4 linked regions of the Homo sapiens genome follow. The protein of the gene in region 4 purifies or fractionates together with the protein of the main gene of each other region. This does not show direct contact. Each region holds a gene or a part of one and is shown on either strand. Other genes may lie near its edges.

Region 1 (7,336 bases), on a different chromosome or scaffold from region 4:
CTTTTTAAACTGTTTGGTTTCCCTTCAAATCCCCCAGATGTGCTGCAATCCTCAGTATCCAAGTATCTTAATTACCCCTCTAAAAGTTAAATATTAATCCAAATAATCACAAACCTCATCTTGAGTTGACCTGACCTCCTTCTACACTAACCATTAATAAACTCATCTCTGAAATGAGGCTACCCATAATCAGACCACAGAATAGCAGTATGAAATATAAAACTTTAGATATAAAGACAAAAGGTACAAAGTTTTAAATATTGAGCCCACCAAAATCCATAATCCATGTAACCCAGGACAATCCACTAAACCTAAGTTTCTCATAAACTTAAACCTCATTTTGCTCATCTGTAAAGTGGTGATGAATATCTTCCTGCAGGGTTATAGAAAAACGTAAATGAGCTAATACATGTAAAGTATACAGTGTCTGGCTTTACCCAAATATCAATTAAATAGTAAGTTCAGAGTTACAGTCTTTCTTGTAGTTTGAAAATTCTTAAAATTTCCGTAAGGTGATTTTTGAATACCCTAACATCAATTCTAAGTTTTCCTTCATTAAAAAAGAAAAATTGGCAAGGCTAAGGCAGGAGGATTGCTTTAGCTCAGGAGTTCAAAACCTCAACTCTACAAAAATTTTATTTAAAAATTAGCCAGGCACTGGTGGCATATGCCTGTGATCCCAGCTACTTGGGAGGCTGAGGCAGGAGGATCGCTTCAGCTCAGGAGGTTGACGCTGTGTTCATACCACTGCACTCCAGCATGGGTGAAAGACTGTCTCAACAACAACACAAAAATTAAAAAAAAAAAAAAGAAAAGAAAAGAAGAATGGTACTAAGGCTCAGTCTATAATAAAAGCTTCCTATTTTGGTTGCTACAGTACCTTCAAAATGTCTCCATGCACATGTAACTTTAGAAAAAGATAAATTGTGTATGCGGTATGTTCAATCTCTGCATGGTAAGACAGGTAATTCACTTCAATACTTTCCTGAATTTTTCAAAGTTTCTACAATGATCAGGGACTGCTACTTTTGAAACCAGAAATTTTTAATTGATGGTTCAGGCTTAAGTGTATAAAGACAGTTACTTCTCACCCACAGCAAGAAAATGCAAATTAAAAAGTACATTAGAATGCAATTTTTCACCTATTGGATTTGTAAAAATTCACGTTTTAATAGTTTCCCACGTGTTCTCCTACATGCTCATGGAAAGGTAAATTGATACGCTCCCTCTGGAAGGCTATCCAGCTTTCTGTATCACAATTACAAATGATCTTCTGACCCAGCAATTTCTGCTTCCTACAGAAACACTTGACCCATGCAAAACAACCATGGGAAACAGTCTAAATGTCTATCAACAGGGGTCTAGTTAATAATAGCCCATCCATGTTTAAAAAATATCCTAGCTATATTACAAATAACACACTAGTAACAGTGTTTAGTTCTATGGGAGGGAGGACGACTAGATGGACAAAAGTCACCGGTATAGACTTTATATTACTTTGGCATTTCATTTTTTGCATGGTTCAAAATACCATATTAAATACAAACGACAAAAATCTACCCCAGTGATTTCTCCACCCAAGTACCAGAAAACAAACTGTGGGTCCCTAAATCTGTACTGTCCGGGAGTCAAAATACCTCTGCCATACATAAGGTAACAAAATTTGAAAAGCGAGCACCACTATTTTCCCCTAGATTCAGGGGAGAGGTATTCTCTATAGGATTTCCACTCTGAAATTCAGAGTGCCAATTAAACATCAAATCAGCTATTCTTCAAGATGTTCTATAGGACAGACAAGGGAAATGACCACCAGAATCAAATATGCAACATTTGGTAAACTTAAACATAAATGAAATATGTACCATGGTATACAATAACTCACCTGTGTTGTTTTACCAGACCCAGTCTCACCAACCAGTACAAAGGACTGATGTCTAACCAGAATATCTGTAAACCTATCCTTGTATTCCCAAACAGGGAGCTGAAGACGTTTCTTTAGAATATCATAGTATCGAGGAGTATGGGGTAAGTTGGTGAACGGATTAATGCACTGTGGAAGTGACGTGTGACCTGCATGTCCGGCATGCGTTGAATGAGCAGAATGTGTTGAATGCGTTGAATGTGCTGAGTGGGTTGAGTGAGCTGAATGGGAAGCTTTCAAAGGTGGTAATCCAGCACTGATAAGCATAGCATTTGTTGAAGCTCGCAACTCCTTCTCCTTTTCTTTCTCCCTCTCTCGCTCTCTATCTCCTCTATCACGTTCTCGGTCTCGATCTTTAGACCGATCTTCACGATCCCGGTCTCGATCTCGATCCTTCCTAAAAACAAAAATTTAGAATTCAGATTCTGAATTTTATGCAGAATGTTCACGGTAGCGTTATAATCACAAAGAGAGTAAATGTCCAACGTTCAAATGAATAAAAAGTCCAATGGATTATGTAACTATCAGAAATAATAAAAAATACCCTACAATCAAGGGTTTCCCATTCTCCACCACAAACATCTTTCCCTTCCTTGCTGATGCCCCACCTTCCTTAACTTTTAACATTAGGTGAGGTAACACAAGAACTCAGTCTGCTGCAAGTAAAACCCCTCCTACTTAGACAACAGAAATCAGATACTGAGGGTAGGATGAAGAAAGGATAGGTCCAAATTGAGTAAAAGAAGATGGCATCTCAATCTTTCTCAAATTCTCCTTCAATTTGTGAAGAGGTATTTTGTGCACTAAAAGTATATTCAGAAGTTAGCACAAACACTGCTACTGGAGATAAAGACAACTCCACCTCACATCATTACAGTCAACAGTGGTGGGTTTTGCTCAATACTTTTATAATCCACTTCTAATAAATTACTTTAATATTCCTTTCTTTGCCATAGGACGATGTTCGGTTGTAATGCAAAGTGAAAAGAGCATAGTACAATGTTATACCTGTCAATATCTCAACTAATACAAATACGAATTACAGGACTGCAGAATTTGTTTTCTTAGTTATACTTTCCAGCACTTTCCCAATTTTGTTCAGTAAATGTATATTGCTTTATTAAAAAAACTGAAATTAAAACTTTTATTCCTTCTTGCTTGTTTACTCTTGCATTTTAACCTAAACAGCAACAGCAAAACACTGAAAGCACTCTATAAATCTATGTACCTTGGTCTACCATAAAATGAAACATAGCCAAATTAAAAATAAGCTTTGCTAAACACTATTAAGTTGTTTAACATGTTAAAATTATGCAGGTAGCCACTCTATTAAACCTGGGTCAATTTTAAGTAGTCAATGCTGGTATCTACTTCCAGTTACTAGAGATTGACCTTAATAAGTCATTTTAAAAGTATCTATGCTAAGAACTTCACAAGCAGAATGGCTGCAGGTTGTTCATATGCGTTGTGGCTGAAAGCAGCCTCTGGGAGACTGGTGGTGGGAATAAAATAAAATAATCTATGCTTGTTCATTTTACTAATCCAGTTTACTTCAGACCAAGTCCATCAGCAGAGAAATTTGCCTCAAGATCTTTAAACCCAGACTTGAAATAATGAGACATGACGGAGCTATGACACAAGCCCCGAAACATGTCATTGTTCCTTACCCACAATACACAAAAGTACAAATTCCCTGTGCTCCAAGTGCAGTTGTGTGACATGTACAAATTTACTCAAAAAGGGGAAAAGCCATATATATGCATATATAAACATGAAAAGTGATTTTCCCCTCTTCCATCCCAATGTTCACCTTCTACAAAAATCACAGAGCATACAAGCCAGAACTGTATGAAGCCTCTCATTTCACCTGGCATAAACAGAAAGAAAATCAATGGGAAAGAAAAGTCAAAGGATAACTTAATAAACATAAAATGAAGTCTCACAATTCAATACTTGAGAGTCTGGACCTATCTTCTGAAATATGCCATCAACTATCTTTGCTTCTCCTGCTTCTGGCCTAAGGTGACTGTTAATTAAGTGTTTACATTGCTCCAAAATGCCAACGAGGTGTAGTTTATAATAAGAGTACACAGAAATGTGCCCAGCAAAGTAAGAAGCACTGTACTCACAAATGGTTCAAATACTTGACACCTTAAAGATCATGGATCATACAGCTAGAAAAGAACTCTTAAAGAACATCTGGTCTGAACAAAAAGGATTCATGTTTCTAGTATTCACTCAACCATGGGGGAAGGAGGAGATGACAAAAAATATAATTGAAACAACTTCCTTTTTTTTGAGATAGGATCTTGCTCCATTACCCGGGTTGGAGTGCAGTGGCTCACTGGATCATGGCTCACTGCAATATCAAACTTCTGGGTTCAAGTGGTCCTCTCACCTCAGCCTCCCGAGTAACTGGGACTACAGGCATGCACCACCACGCCTCGCTAATTTCTTATTTTTGTAGAGATAAGGGTCTCACCATGTTGCCCAGGATGGTTTTCAACTCCTGGGATCAAGCAATCTCTTGCTTCAGCCTCCCAACGTGCTGGGATTACCGATGAGCTACCATGCCCAGCCTAGTTTAATGATTTCTATACTTCTAGCATAGTACCAGGCAATTAAGACATGGTCAAGAGTTACAAAATTTGGGGGAAGAGAGGTGACAAAGTAAATCATGTATTATATATTGCCTTAGTTTGTTAAAGTAATACCTATACTAACAAAGATTTTTTCAGGGGCCCACTTCATCAGATGCTTCATTACCAAACCAAACAAAGGATGTATAAAATACATTCTAAAGATAAAAGGTTAGCTGCTGATCAAGCAATGGCGACAGCTGTGGTATTAAGATAAAAGGAATGCTGGAATCACCATTGCAAGACACTGCCTCAATTTACTGATCTGCAAAATGAAGAGCATTTTCAGATACTTTTAGTCTCAGATTAAAGTAAGAAAACAGGGAGGATGCAGGAGGCAAATTCAGACACCTGGAAATGTTGCTTATGGCTCAAACTACCTTCCTTCGATGAGAGAGGGAGTACAAATGAAAGGTGAGTAAAAGGGGAAAATCAAACCCTCCACTTCATAAATATTTGTCAACTATTGTGCACATGCGTGTTTTCTTTTTTAAAAGATACTTTTTATTATAAAGGAGTTTTGTTCTTAAAAGTTTACTAGTTGAAGTATAAGGGTTTTTAAAAACTGGTATCAAGTCAGTGCTTCAGACACAGCCACACCACGAGCAGGGAGGGAGGTATGACATGACACAGTTGTTGAACATACTGCTCTGTACTGTGTCTCAGTTCAATCTTGGCTCAAGACTTAAGCCAACTATAGGATCACAGTTATTTCTTCCCTCACCTATAAGATGTGGCTATCAATATGTTTTGTAGAGTATAGATAGGATTAAATGAGTTAATATATGTGATGTGCTTTAAGTGTTGTCTGGCACATTGCAAATGCCCAATATCGGTTGTTGTTGTTATTATTACTATTATTTTGAGACGGAGTCTTGCTCTGTCACCAGGCTGGAGTGCAGTGGTGCAATCTCAGCTCACTGCAACCTCTGCCTCCCTGTTTCAAGCGATTCTCCTGCCTCAGCCTCCAGAGTAGCTGGGACTACAGGCACATGCTGCCACACCCAGTTAATTTTTGTATTTTTAGTAGAGACGAGGTTTCACCATGTTGGCCAGGATGGTTTCAATCTCTTGACCTCATGATCTGACTGCCTCGGCCTCCCAAAGTGCTGGGATTACTGGCATGAGCCACCGCGCCCCACCAATATTGGTTATTATTAAAGATCTTTTTAAGTTCTAATACCATGTTAAAATTCTACATGGAGGGCAAGACCTAGTGACTCACGCATGTAATCCCAGTGCTTTGGGAGGCCCAAGTGGGAGGATCACCAGAGGCCAAAAGTTTGAGACCAGCCTGAGCAATACAGTGAGACCCCATCTCTACAAAAAAATTTTAAACTTAGCTAGGTGGGGTGGCACGCCTGTAGTCCCAGCTACCTGGGAGGCTGAGACGGGAAGATCACTTGAGCCCTGGAATTTGAGACTGCAGTGAGCCATGATCACACCAGTGCACTCCAGCCTGGGAAACAGAGGAAGACCCTGTCTCTAAAAAATAAAAAAATTCTACATGGAATAATAACAGGCACTGAAGTACTGCTAAGGAAGACATTAACTGGTCATCAAAATCATGATATTTTAAATAAGCATTGCTTTTTTTTTTTTTTTTTAAAGACAGTCTACCTCTGTTACCCAGGCTGGAGTGTAGTGGTGCAATCTCGACTCACTGCAACCTCTGCCTCCCAGGTTCAAGCAATTCTCCTGCCTCAGCCTCCGGAGTAAGTAGCTGGGATTACAGCAGTGCGCCACCATGCCCAGTGTATTTTTGTATTTTTAACAGAGACAAAAATAGGTTTTATTACCTTGGCCAGGCTGGTCTTGAACTCCTGACCTCAGGTGATCCATTCGCCTAGGCCTCCCAAAGTGCTGTGATTACAGGTGTGAGCCATCACACCCGGCAATAAGCACTGCTTTTTATCCGTCAATCTTATTTCCAGGAACCTCTCAAGGATGTGTGCAAATACGTATGTATAAGGATGTTCATCAAACTTCTCATTTATAAAATAGCAACAAGTGGAAAACTACCTAAATATCAATGAACAGGATATTGGTTAAATAAGTGATGTCATACCTTTACAACTGGAGTACTATGGCAGTCAATCTATTTATTTTTTATTATTTTTTTTTTTTTGAGATGGAGGCTCGCTCTGTTGCCCAGGCTGGAGTGCAGTGGCACAATCTCGGCTCACTGCAAGCTCCGCCTCCCGGGTTCATACCATTCTTCCTCAGCCTCCCAGAGTAGCTGGGACTACAGGTGCCCGCCACCACACCCGGCTAATTTTTTGTATTTTTAGTAGAGACAGGGTTTCACCGTGTTAGCCAGGATGGTCTTGATCTCCTGACCTCGTGATCCACCCGCCTCGGCCTCCCAAAGTGCTGGGATTACAGGCGTGAGCCATTGCGCCCGGCCTATGGCAGCCAATTTAAAAGCGTAATGTGTACCTACAGTTAATGACATTTCTGAGTGGAAAAAAAAATCAAAGTACAAAATAACACGCGTTGATCCCACTGATATTAAATTTTATAGTTCATATTTTTGAGTCAATATGCAGAGATCTTAGAAAATGTTCACCAAAAACTGTTATCCAAAGATGGAGATGAAGATTTTAGGGAATGCCTTCTTTAAACCTTTGAGTATAAACATTTCTTATGTTCCCTGTGGCAAGTTCATTTAACCTCATCTACCATACAGGATTGTAGTGAAAATGTGCATGCTCCACAAATGTTATCACAGTATTAATACATTAGCTTTACTTTCCCATAATTAACAGAAAAAACT
Region 2 (3,668 bases), on a different chromosome or scaffold from region 4:
TTTCTCAATTTTCTTAGAACTGTCTTTAATGGCCCAGCTCTACCAGGGCTTGTTGTCTAAGGACATTAACTTGTGCTCCCCTCAGGGATGGGTTTACTACTAGCTGTCAGAAAGCTATTGGGTATCCTAATGTGTTAATAGCTGAAACTCAGCTGTAATTTCTCCTAAATACTTCAGCATTTTGCATTCTGTACATTGTGGTGCTTTTTCCACCTTGTATTGTTGTAACTGTAAGCTCCTAGGGGGCAGCAATTTGGTCTTAGGCGTGTACCCTGTTTAGTGCCTGGCAATGCCATGTTTATATCAAGGTCTTAATATTACTTTTGAGTTATTTCTCCCACTCTTCATGGAAGTGATGCTCCAGCCTTGCTAAAACACTGAGGGTCCTCCCGATAAGCCAGGCATTGTGATTCCTTGGCTTCAAGTGCCTTCTGTCTTCCCCGAAGGTCCACTGAGATCTACAATCCCCCCTTTCCTCTGATCTCTTGCCATGTAAGTAATTTTTTAAAAGATCAGTACAAGAGCTATATTTTTTCCTAAGAAAAAATTTCAACAGGAATGGGGAGTAGCCCCGTTTTGGGGCTGATCTGTCCAGAATTTGGAGTGAGGAACAAATCCATTCTCATCTACTTTCCACATTTTCCCTCTTGTTTGAGGTCCTGTTCCAACCTTCATTTCTGAAACTGTTCTAGAGCACTTTGTCTTTCTCGTAGTTCATAACTTACCCCTTCAGTCTAGAATTAGAATTACATTATCTGTTTTACTACTTTACTAGACTGTAAGCTCCTAGAAGATAAGGACTAGGGAGTTCATCTCTGTATTCCACCAGAAGGTACAGTGACTCATAACTAGAGTCTTTAGATGAAACTTACTGAGTTGAATAACTTAATATATTTCTGTTTTCATTCCCAAGGGAGGCCATGTCTGGAGATAGACCTTGAATTTAATAAATTTTAGGCACTATACCATTTCAGTGGAGAAAATTGTTGGGAAATTTGGGGGGATGGATATATAAGGGGGAGGAAGTCACTGGCCAGTTTGAGGTGCTTCCATTGGTCTGGGTAACTAGCCATTTCTTCCTGATTGTGCCTAGTATATCCCAGACAGTTTGTTTCTATGCAGAAGAATTTTATATGAAATTTTCATTTCTTTGCAAAAACTTGTTCCTTCTTTCAGTTCATGACATCATCCATGCTAAAGTCTGAGTCATCTGCTTCCATTTTTGTTATTCCCCACATCCAGTCTTCAGCTAAGTCCTGTCAGTTCTACCTCAAGTCTTTCCCGTCTTTCTTCCTCACCTATGTAATTTCAGTAGTCTCTCAGCTTCACTTAACCTCTTACTCCAGCCTACTTTATACACAATGTTAGATTCATCTTACTGAAACATAGTTCTGACCATGTATTCCATGTATGTGTTCTCTCTCCCCTATTAGACTGTAAGCTCCTTATGGGCAGGATCTGTGTCTGAGTCATCTTTGTATCTTGCCTAGCACCTATCAATAAATACTTCTTGAATGAACAAATGAATTCTCATTTCTCGACATAAAGCCTTGTCTAAAGTGAGATGTTTTCCAGGTCATACATAGGTTTCTCCCTGGGGTAATTGGAAGTTCTTGCATATAAAGTTGGTTAAATAGTAATAATTATGAGTTAACCACAGAAAATTTCAGAAAACTTTAATTTTTTTCCATTGGAATCAGCATGGATATGTGTATATGGATGGTTCAATAAATATACTTTTATATACATGTTTCACAGAAATTTTACATTCCATCTTCAAACTGCAGAAATAGATTTTTTTTTTTTACAAGCCAAAAAATAACTGCCATAACTTTTGTGACTTCATGCAAAAAAAGGGGGGAAGAGTAAGGGGCAAAAGGGAATTAGTTGTTCAAGGTTGAGTGTCCAGTAAGAAGTAAAAATGTTACATTAAGGAAGCGATTGCTTAACACGCTGCTTAAGGTGGTAGCCAGACAAATCCTTAACTGCAGCATTAAGGCCATACCAAGTTTATACATATATACAAAGAAATTTCCATATAAAAGACATACTATCACATTTTCTTCTTCATAAGGATGAGGAACTTTGTAATTCTGACCTGATTTTCCAGGCCAATTAATTAAAATGTCCCCAGGCTGCTTTTTAGAAGTATCTTCTACTTTGGCTAGCTGTCAGAGTTGCCGCTATGTGAGCTTGTGACTTCTGGTCTGGCGTGAAAGTATGAATCATCTTGAACCTCTTCCATCATAGCACTATGTTGCTGAGCTAATTCATGCTGCCCAGCTAAGCACATTTTCTACATCCCCAAAGTATTTGGAATCACAGCATTGTAACTTGTGATTGTCTTACCTGTAACAGACTCCACAGTCATGCTGGCATTGTGACCTGAAGAATTACACAGTGCCCTTCTTAGATTCTTTGGGGTTAAGGTAACTTCTTGAATAATGTACTAATGAACGATAGTGTTTCAGGAAACATGCCCTAGCTATTGGAAGTTCGTATCTAACTTTTACCCCTTGTGTGTCATGATACATTTAAGTTGGTAGCTACATTTTTGGAATAAAGGAAATGTAAAATTATTTGCAGAATAATAACCTGGGATTTGCTCTTCTGCCTAAACATCGAACTAGGGAACTTTAAAGACAAAGGGTGCATCTTTTGTGCAAGTATCTAAGCGGGCAAAATGGGGAAAACATGAAGGGCAAGTCCTTTGGGGATGACTTCTAATTAATGCAGAAGTCATTTGCTTTGGCCAGGTTGGGTGGGACTCTGAGATTGCACACTCTTGCCCTGTTGGCAGAAACTAGCCCATCTTAAGTTAGTCAATGAATCCTGAGTCAAAATGAAAGGTTGCTAAATCTAAGATCGAGTGTATAAATAAAATAACCCCTTCCTCCAGTGACTGTGCATTTATTTTGTAATAAACTCATTTTGGAATGTTTTAGCAATGAATTGGTATCTCTCTGTTGTCCTGTTCATCGCCAGTTTTCAAGTATGGCTCCAGTGTGTTCACAGCTATGGCTGCAAGGTAATTTGGTCTCTTTCTATAGCTTCCCTAGGCCAGTCAAGTTTGAGAATAAGGTCTCCGTAAGTGGCCTGTCCTGGGAGAGAGGACCAAGTGATTTGTGATTTGGAAGCACTGTGGTATGTTTGAACACTTGCCAAGTTAACAGTCACTGAGTATTCTAATCATGCACCAGCCACTCTTCACCCTAAATGTACTACAAGTTATTCATTGCAGTAACTTGCATCAATTCTAGATAAGGTGATTTTTATTCAACAGGTCTACTGTGATGCTGATCTAGACAATGAGAGTGGAATAGCCTTTGGCAGTCTTGGAATATCAAGAGGGCTTAAAAGTATTAGGTTTTTGTTTTGGTCATTTTGTGTTTCACTTTGTCCATTTCAAGTCCAAAGCAGTTGAAGACATGTTTTATCCAGTTTGTCAGATGTACTTGGAGACCACTGAGGTCCCTGCTATGTTTGTTTTGAAAGTAGAACTCAAGCTGTTTTTTCTTTTTTTTTAAACATTGCACTAACCTTCTGTCTAATAAGCACAAAAATCACATTGAGTAGGTATTTTGTCTAGATCCATTCAGTATACTAAGCAGGTGGGACCTGTTTGGGATTTAATTTACTTATATCATTTTAACTGTTGTTAGTGCTGA
Region 3 (5,747 bases), on a different chromosome or scaffold from region 4:
TAGTCATTTTAGAATCTCAAAATAGTTTTACAAATTGGAGGAGACTTTGGAAGTCCATGGAATCCATTCAAACTAAAACCTTTTGGTTTTAGTGATGTTGGCAGTTTTCTAAGTAAAAATGAAAAATAATTGAATATCTGCATCTTTAAATAAAATTATTTGACTGCCTGCATGGGGCTTTCTCTTGTCCTTCCCACATTAATGATAAATGATATTCCAACTTTAAATGAATCATAATTGTATGAAAGTCCTATTTTTATATTGACTTATCTAATTTTTTAAGGCTATGGAAGAAATGAATGGCAAAGACTTGGAGGGAGAAAATATTGAAATTGTTTTTGCCAAGCCACCAGATCAGAAAAGGAAAGAAAGAAAAGCTCAGAGGCAAGCAGCAAAAAATCAAATGTGAGTGAAATTTGTATACTTAAAAATTGTATAAATTTTAATATTTATACACTAATTGGAAAATAACAGGTGTTGATCAGACTTGTTAAATGCATAACATCTCTTTAAAGAAGACTTGAACGTTTGAGAGTCATAGGGAAACACCAGTGATCTAAGTGTTTATTGAACTCTTACTATGAACCATATTTGTGAAAATAATCAGAATTGTAAATAACTGGAATTTTGGTAAATTGGCAAGATGAAAAATCTGTCTAGCTTTTTTTTTGTTTTGTATTGGGTGACAGAGTCTCACTTTGTCACTCAGGCTGGAGTGCAGTGGCACTCTTTCGGCTCACTGGAACCTCCACCTCCCGGGTTCAAGAGATTCTCCTGCCTCAGTCTTCTGAGTAGCTGGGTTACAGGCGCCACCATGCCTGGTAATTTTTGTGTTTTTTTTTTTAGTAGGGGTGGGGTTTCGTCATGTTGGCCAGGTTGGTCTCAAACTCCTGACCTCAGGTGATCCGCCCACCTCTGCCTCCCAAAGTGCTGGGATTACAGCTGTGAGCCACCATGCCTGGCCTATCTCACATATTTTCTTTGTATTTTACAGAATGTTCTTCTGAAAATGTCTTAAATATTAGCTGTCCAAATATCTTAATACATTTTGTTAAAGGGTGGAGAGTTTTTTCTCTGAGAGATAGGAAATACTAAATCTCTATTCATGATAGACTGTTTCTTCACCAGTAGTGCTCATTGCCACCCCAAAAATTTCATGTTCGATGGATGGATTTTGAAAATGAAATGAGTATTAAAATTATAACACAGTAGTGCAATAAGAAAACAAGTAGGTGTGTAATGAGTTATACTAATTAGGGAGACCTTTTTAGAGAATCTGTAAATAGGTATCTGCTTAAGACTGAAGGAAACTTAGTTGGGTAAGAATTGAAGTTAGCTCCTAAAAAGTTAGTTACTGATTTCCTAGAAGAGGGGTAATTGTTCTTGAATGTGAGAGCAATAATCACTGTCAATACTATTCAAGGTTAATTTTCTGTTGATTGCCCTGTTTGGAATTTAAAGGAAGAGGATGCTTCTACATATTTCTGTTACTTCATAATCAGGGAATTGATCAAGTTCTAGTTTCTGCAGTTAATTGTCCAGTTGGACAAGTTGGCAAGCTCTGAACCTCAATTTCTTCAGTTCTAAAATGGGATCAGACAAAATTATGTAATAGCTCTGGATTATGTGATTATCCAAGTGACCCATGCTTGTTCTGGGACCAAAGAAAATATACTTTGTAGGTTTGATGATAGTGTAAATGAAGGAAGACTACAAAAAGAGTTAGTTTTAATGCTCTATATTTCAAACACCTGGATATACTAAACAGTGTAAAATAACTTCTTTTTATTTCTTTCAGAAGACGATATATGGTTAATTTATTAAAGTAGAATGTAAGTATAGGAGATTATATTAGATAATGTGATTAGAGCAGTTACATTTGGTACTTGATAGAGGGAGATACTAAATAGAAGGTGGAGGATGTCAGTATATCTGTTAATATTTGAAAAGGAGTACAAACTAAAAGGGATGATTGCATGTTACTTTCGTACTTTAACTTGCTACAGTCTTTTTTTTTTTTTTTTTAAGTTTTAACTAAGCACGTATTCCTACATAATTCTCACTGTATTCCTGTGAGTTAGGTACTCTATCCCTTAGTTTGAAATGAGGAAACTGAGGCTCAGAAGTCAACTTCCTTGGGGTCATTCACATAGTAAGTAGTGGAGTTGGATTTGAACTAAGGTAGTCTAGTCTCCCATAATTTTCCCTCTTAACCACTATACCAGGATTTCTCATCTCTGTCCTCCTGACATTTTGGGCTGGATAATTCTTGGTCTTGGGGGCTGCCCTGTGCGTTGTAGGACTTTTAGCAGCATCCTTGGCCTCTTCCTGCTAGATGCCAGTAGCACCCCCTTTCTCAGTTATGACCGTCTAAAATGTCCCCCTGGAAAGAGGTGGTGGCAAAATTATCCCTGGTGAGAACTATTTAGAAATAGAAAAGGATGATCTTTCCATCATTTCCTCAAAACAATAAACCAGCAGAGCACATAAAAGGTCTAAGGACCTAGTGAACCGGAATAACATTTTTACGTTAGTCAGTTGGAACAGGGGCCTTTAATAATTCAGGATAAAATAAGGCCGGGCGTGGTGGCTCATGCCTGTAATCCCACCACTTTGGGAGGCTGAGGTGGGCAGATCACTCTAGGCCGAGGTGGGTGGATCATTCGAGGTTAGGAGTTCGAGACCAGCCTGGCCAACATGGTGAAACCCCATCTCTACTAAAAATAAAAATTGGCTAGGTATGGTGGCACATGCCTATAGTCCCAGCTACTCGAGAGGCTGTGGCAGGAGAATCACTTGAACCCAGGAGGTGGAGGTTGCAGTGAGGTGAGATTGCGCCACTGCATTGCAGCCTGGGTGACAGAGCAAGACTGTGTCTCAAATAAATAAATAAATAAAATAACATAACAGGTACGGAATAAAAAACACGAGTAAATTATTCCTTCAAGAGGGATTAATTTCCATATTTCATGGGATTATTGGGCTCAAAATAATCACTAAGTTTTAAGGAATTGTATAAAATTGTACTGTAGGGAACATGAGTTGGAATATTGTAACTTCGTTTAGTCCTTTTACATAGTATGTAAGCATATGCTGATTTGTGTGGTTGCTTTCTAATCACTTTGACAACTAAAGTTATACCTGTTTAGTGGTTAAAGTTCAGCACTATAGTTACGGTGTAGTTTATTTTTGGGAAAGTAGCAGATCTTTTAAATTTTACTTGGATAGCATTATTGTAGAAACAGGAAAACTTTAAGGTCTTTATGCTAATTTACTGTAGTAAACTTTGAACTTCACACATTTTGGTTGTGTGCTTGTCCTACTTGCCATTTTGCTTTTGTAATAAATGTTCTTCAAGTATATTGGAATAGAATCTTAGCAGAAATGCAATTCAAAGTGACAAATTTTTTTTTGAGTCAGAGTCTCGCTCTGTCACCCAGGCTGGAGTGCAGTGATGTGACCTTGGCTTACTGCAGCCTCCGCCACCTGGGTTCAAGCGATTCACCTGCTTCACTCAGCCTCCCGCATAGCTGGGATTACAGGCATGACCGCTCCCAGCCCTAAAGTGGCAAATTTGACAGCTAAATCAATTGTAAAAATTCTGTAACAGGTTTATTGGGAGATTTTGAAGATCATGAAGAAATAAATAAGGTTCATAACTAGAGATTTGTGGTATTTTGGGATGCCTATATTGTCATCCTGATCCTCTGATCATTACTACTACTAAAACTTAATCTAGTACAAATAATTCTGTATTAAAGTTATGTGAATTATGCGAAGTAAACTCTGGATTTAAACTGTTACAAATGGCTAAATGCCTACTTGTTAACTAAGTAATTTGATTTAAACTCTAATCTCTGTCTCTTTTTTAATAGGTATGACGATTACTACTATTATGGTCCACCTCATATGCCCCCTCCAACAAGAGGTCGAGGGCGTGGAGGTAGAGGTGGTTATGGATATCCTCCAGATTATTATGGATATGAAGATTATTATGATTATTATGGTTATGATTACCATAACTATCGTGGTGGATATGAAGATCCATACTATGGTTATGAAGATTTTCAAGTTGGAGCTAGAGGAAGGGGTGGTAGAGGAGCAAGGGGTGCTGCTCCATCCAGAGGTCGTGGGGCTGCTCCTCCCCGCGGTAGAGCCGGTTATTCACAGAGAGGAGGTCCTGGATCAGCAAGAGGCGTTCGAGGTGCGAGAGGAGGTGCCCAACAACAAAGAGGCCGCGGGGTACGTGGTGCGAGGGGTGGCCGCGGTGGAAATGTAGGAGGAAAGCGCAAAGCTGATGGGTACAACCAGCCAGATTCCAAGCGGCGCCAGACCAATAATCAGAACTGGGGCTCCCAACCCATTGCTCAGCAACCGCTCCAAGGTGGTGATCATTCTGGTAACTATGGTTACAAATCTGAAAACCAGGAGTTTTATCAGGATACTTTTGGGCAACAGTGGAAGTAGAAACAGTAGGGCCTCTGTAAAATTGGAGACTGATAGGTTGATCAGAAACTCACCCTAAATCTGAACGGGTGCCGCTATAATTTGTGACATCTGGCAAGATTTCCCTTTATGTATATATTTTAACAATCCGCTTGGACACGAACAAAGCCACACTTCTAACTGCTTCTGGCGAACTGATTTTATTTTTAATTTTTTTCAATAAAGATATTCTTAGATACTGAAAGAAATAGTTAATGAGTTTGCATTTGTGCTTGAGAAAATTTGGCTCAAGTCCATTTGGCTGTAGTGTCAACGATGTTTCCAGTAGTGTTTAGATTTGGTGTCTTCAAAGGTAGTTGATTAAAACCAAGTGTGTCTTTAATATCTTGTATCAGAATAACTTTGTATGTTACCAACTTAAATTGCTAGAATAAGGTAAATTGATACACAACTGCTATTTTTAATTTAGAACTTTGACCTAATTTGGGTTTTCAAAACCATTTTGGCTACTTGTATTCTTTATGCTGTTGTTTATTTCAATAAAAAATTCACACCTAAATGTATACTTACTAAAATTGTGTTTACAATTCGTTTTTCACAAAATTTCCTGCAAATTTGGTTCAAATTGTATAGCATGTCAAGGCCAATTAAAGGGTTTTGTGCCTTGTTAATTCTTGTGTGGAATATGTCTGCACATTACACAACACTGATTTATTGCAGTTTTCTGCTTCTGGTTTAAAGTGCTATTTTACAACAGACTTCATGTTCCCATCAAAAATAAAAAGATAATACATGTAGTAAGTTTAAGTTGGTAAGTATTTTAGAGTTCTTAATTGTGATGAATGAACTGTATAAAAGGACAAATTCAGGTAGTCTCAAAGGGTTTGCAGGTCACACTGACAAGTCCACTTTCAGTTGCCTAAAGTTTATCCTAACTAACCTAAAACTCAGATTGAGTATATTGCCCTCTTGACTGTTTTGCACACCATGGGACTAGAAAGCAGCAAAGAAACTCTAGTGTGAAAACAATGGGAATAGGTTTGGGTAATTTGTGAGTTGCACTCTAAATAATCACTGTACTTACCTAATTAAAAATAAAACAGCTTTACAGTTAGTTTTGGGTAAGCAAATATATATCTGAAGGATAAAATTTACCTCACAGACTGGTTTGTATTAAAGATCTAATAGTTTGGATTTTTGTTTCACATTTTAGTCTTGTTTTGGCCATATGGTCTATACTTCTAACAGTAATGATGGGAAAATGTTAGAGTTTTGGGGGACAGACTCTAGGTCAACAGTGA
Region 4 (3,009 bases):
ATTGGCAAGCTGATAATATCAAGAGTTAATTGCCTTGTGGCAGATTTTATTCTGTCTTCCCATGAAGACATAATGAAATTGTGGATTATGGGTTATTATATACGTGAGACAGAAGTATGGTTCTTAAACCCCAGTTTAATGTGGTAATTCAATGCAGTTAAAAACTTTTTTTTATTGAAGGGAGTTTTTGAATGTTTCTGTTCCTAGGTGAACGGCTGTTTCCTCTTATTCAAGCCATGCACCCTACTCTTGCTGGTAAAATCACTGGCATGTTGTTGGAGATTGATAATTCAGAACTTCTTCATATGCTCGAGTCTCCAGAGTCACTCCGTTCTAAGGTGATTTAAATTTATTTACCAAGTTGCCTCTTACACAGTTATTACGTGGCTTTTTATGGGGACTTAATTGTACAGAACACTTACATCGTGTTATATATAAGCCATGTACAGTTGTAAAGTCTGCATAATAACCTGTGGCGCTATTTATCCCCATTTTATAGATAGGTAAACTGAAACAGGCTGAATAATTTGCCAAATGCTCACACAGCTCTTAAGTGGCAGAGCCTGGCTTCAAATCCCATCAGCTCCAACAGCCATACTCTCAACTGCTGCTGCTTTCTCTAGTGGAGAAAGAGAAATATTTTTCGAGTGTGGGGAGGACAAGGAAAGAGTAGTGCAGGGGAGCGATTCATAATTCTAGAATAGTGGTGTAATAGAACTCAAAATTGAATGGATATAGTTGTTTAGTGTAACAATTTATACTTTCATTTGAGGGAAGAAACTTATCTTTGTTGGGAATTGGTATGTTACCATTATGAAACTCTTTATTTCCATTCCTTTCCTGAACCAGTTTATCTGTTTTCCCCTTTTTTAGGTTGATGAAGCTGTAGCTGTACTACAAGCCCACCAAGCTAAAGAGGCTGCCCAGAAAGCAGTTAACAGTGCCACCGGTGTTCCAACTGTTTAAAGTGAGCTTTTCCCTCTGGTTTGTTGTTTTAAGCTTGTTTTCTTCATCTTTTATAAAGTTTGTTGAGCATATTTTGAAATGTACATAGCAAAAGATCATTTTACAGTTCATTTAAATGTATTGCTAATTTTTCAAGGAAAAGTGGAACTAACTATAGAGGAATTAAAGGAATTTTACCCGTTAACTGTTGGATTTTTAAAATCCCAGGACTTTCAGGTGGTGTTTTTTTTTTTTTTTTTTTTTGAGATGGAGTTTCGTTCTGTCGCCCAACCTGGAGTGCATTGACGCGATCTCGGCTCACTGCAACCTCCACCTCCCAGGTTCAAGCAATTCTCCTGCCTCGGCCTCCCGAGCAGCTGGGATTAACAGGCCCATGCCTGCCACCGTGCCCAGCTAATTTTTGTATTTTTACTAGACTTGGGGTTTTGCCATGTTGGCCAGGCTGGTCTGGAACTTCTGACCTCAAGTGATCCGCCCACCTCGGCCTCCCAAAGTCTTGAAATTACAGGCGTGAGCCACTGCGCCCTGCCAGATTTTGTATAGTAATATATATATAAAATGACCTGTCACAGGTTGGCTTTCATAGTTTTACCTTTCCTTTTTGGGTGGTGCCCTTGGGTCTCTACTACTGTCTTTCATCACTCCCAAGAAATTGAGTAGTGCAGCCAGGATCAGGACCAGGGATTGGCAAATGTTTTTTGTAAAGGGCCAGATAGGAAATATTTTGGGCTTTGAGGACTGTGTTATCTCTGAAATGATCTTGTTCCAGTGTTACCATGTCAAGACAACCATAGATAGTATGTATACAAATGAACAGGTATGGCTGTGTTCCAGTAAAACTATGGATAAAAACAACCACATTGCATTTGGCTAAGGGCTTTAATTTGCTACTGACAAGTGATAGTCCTGGTCTTAATTTGTTTTTTTAACATTTACAGATTGATCAGGGACCATGAAAAGAAACTTGTGCTTCACCGAAGAAAAATATCTAAACATCGAAAAACTTAAATATTATGGAAAAAAAACATTGCAAAATATAAAATAAATAAAAAAAGGAAAGGAAACTTTGAACCTTATGTACCGAGCAAATGCCAGGTCTAGCAAACATAATGCTAGTCCTAGATTACTTATTGATTTAAAAACAAAAAAACACAAAAAAATAGTAAAATATAAAAACAAATTAATGTTTTATAGACCCTGGGAAAAAGAATTTTCAGCAAAGTACAAAAATTTAAAGCATTCCTTTCTTTAATTTTGTAATTCTTTACTGTGGAATAGCTCAGAATGTCAGTTCTGTTTTAAGTAACAGAATTGATAACTGAGCAAGGAAACGTAATTTGGATTATAAAATTCTTGCTTTAATAAAAATTCCTTAAACAGTGCACGGATTTGCTTTTTTTCAAAGTCTTTATAATTGCCATGCATAAATAGGTAATATCTTAATGGTGCTGAGCCGACATAAGAATCTTTTATGAAAAATGTACTGTTAAGTTCAGGGGGTCTATTGGTTTTATGTAAAAGGCACAAGACAATTCCTGTAGTGCATTTTATGAGTTAAGGTTTCCATACGGATTATTGAAACAATTTGTTACATGTATTTGTTACATGATCTTAATATTTCATGTACAAGACTGACACCCATCCACTTTTGAAGATAAGCCAGTTTATGGGGTTTTTTTTTTTGCGGGTAGAGGTTGGGTCTCCCTATTTTGTCCAGGCTGGTCTCGAATTCCTGGGCTCAAGCATAAGCATAAGGCTTATTCCTGCATAAGCCACCATGCCTGGCCTGCCAGTTGATGATTATATTGAGGTTTCTAGGCTATGAGATTATTAGCTTAAACCCTTACATGATATAAAACAATGATAGCTACTCTTGAAGAGGATGTAGATAAGATAGGCTTTGGTATGATTTTAATATTAAAGTGTTAAAAGTTATGATTAGTTTTAAACCTTATTCTTGTAACGTCTTTAATTTGGTAGTTCATGATTGTGGCTTAATTTTAGTGTAATACCCAAAGTACTTGTTAAAGGTGAAGATGTGGG

Evidence for each region.
Region 1: the proteins of PABPC1 (region 4) and DHX15 fractionate together in Homo sapiens (co-fractionation; 4 studies listed by BioGRID). This does not show direct contact.
Region 2: the proteins of PABPC1 (region 4) and G3BP1 purify together in Homo sapiens (affinity purification with western blotting; 5 studies listed by BioGRID and IntAct, with this or other methods). This does not show direct contact.
Region 3: the proteins of PABPC1 (region 4) and SYNCRIP fractionate together in Homo sapiens (co-fractionation; 3 studies listed by BioGRID). This does not show direct contact.

The regions. Positions count from the first base shown.
Region 1 is NC_000004.12:24,574,361-24,581,696, forward strand, and holds part of DHX15 (ATP-dependent RNA helicase DHX15), read right to left. Parts: intron 2,319-7,336; coding exon 1,883-2,318; intron 1-1,882.
Region 2 is NC_000005.10:151,809,834-151,813,501, forward strand, and holds the end of G3BP1 (ras GTPase-activating protein-binding protein 1), read left to right. Parts: 3' UTR 1-2,952; downstream 2,953-3,668. UniProt on the Homo sapiens protein: Protein involved in various processes, such as stress granule formation and innate immunity. Plays an essential role in stress granule formation.
Region 3 is NC_000006.12:85,613,476-85,619,222, reverse strand, and holds the end of SYNCRIP (heterogeneous nuclear ribonucleoprotein Q), read left to right. Parts: intron 1-283; coding exon 284-405; intron 406-3,875; coding exon 3,876-4,467; 3' UTR 4,468-5,247; downstream 5,248-5,747. UniProt on the Homo sapiens protein: Heterogenous nuclear ribonucleoprotein (hnRNP) implicated in mRNA processing mechanisms. Component of the CRD-mediated complex that promotes MYC mRNA stability.
Region 4 is NC_000008.11:100,702,255-100,705,263, reverse strand, and holds the end of PABPC1 (polyadenylate-binding protein 1), read left to right. Parts: intron 1-207; coding exon 208-338; intron 339-873; coding exon 874-966; 3' UTR 967-967; exon of another isoform or gene 968-1,904; 3' UTR 1,905-2,348; downstream 2,349-3,009. UniProt on the Homo sapiens protein: Binds the poly(A) tail of mRNA, including that of its own transcript, and regulates processes of mRNA metabolism such as pre-mRNA splicing and mRNA stability.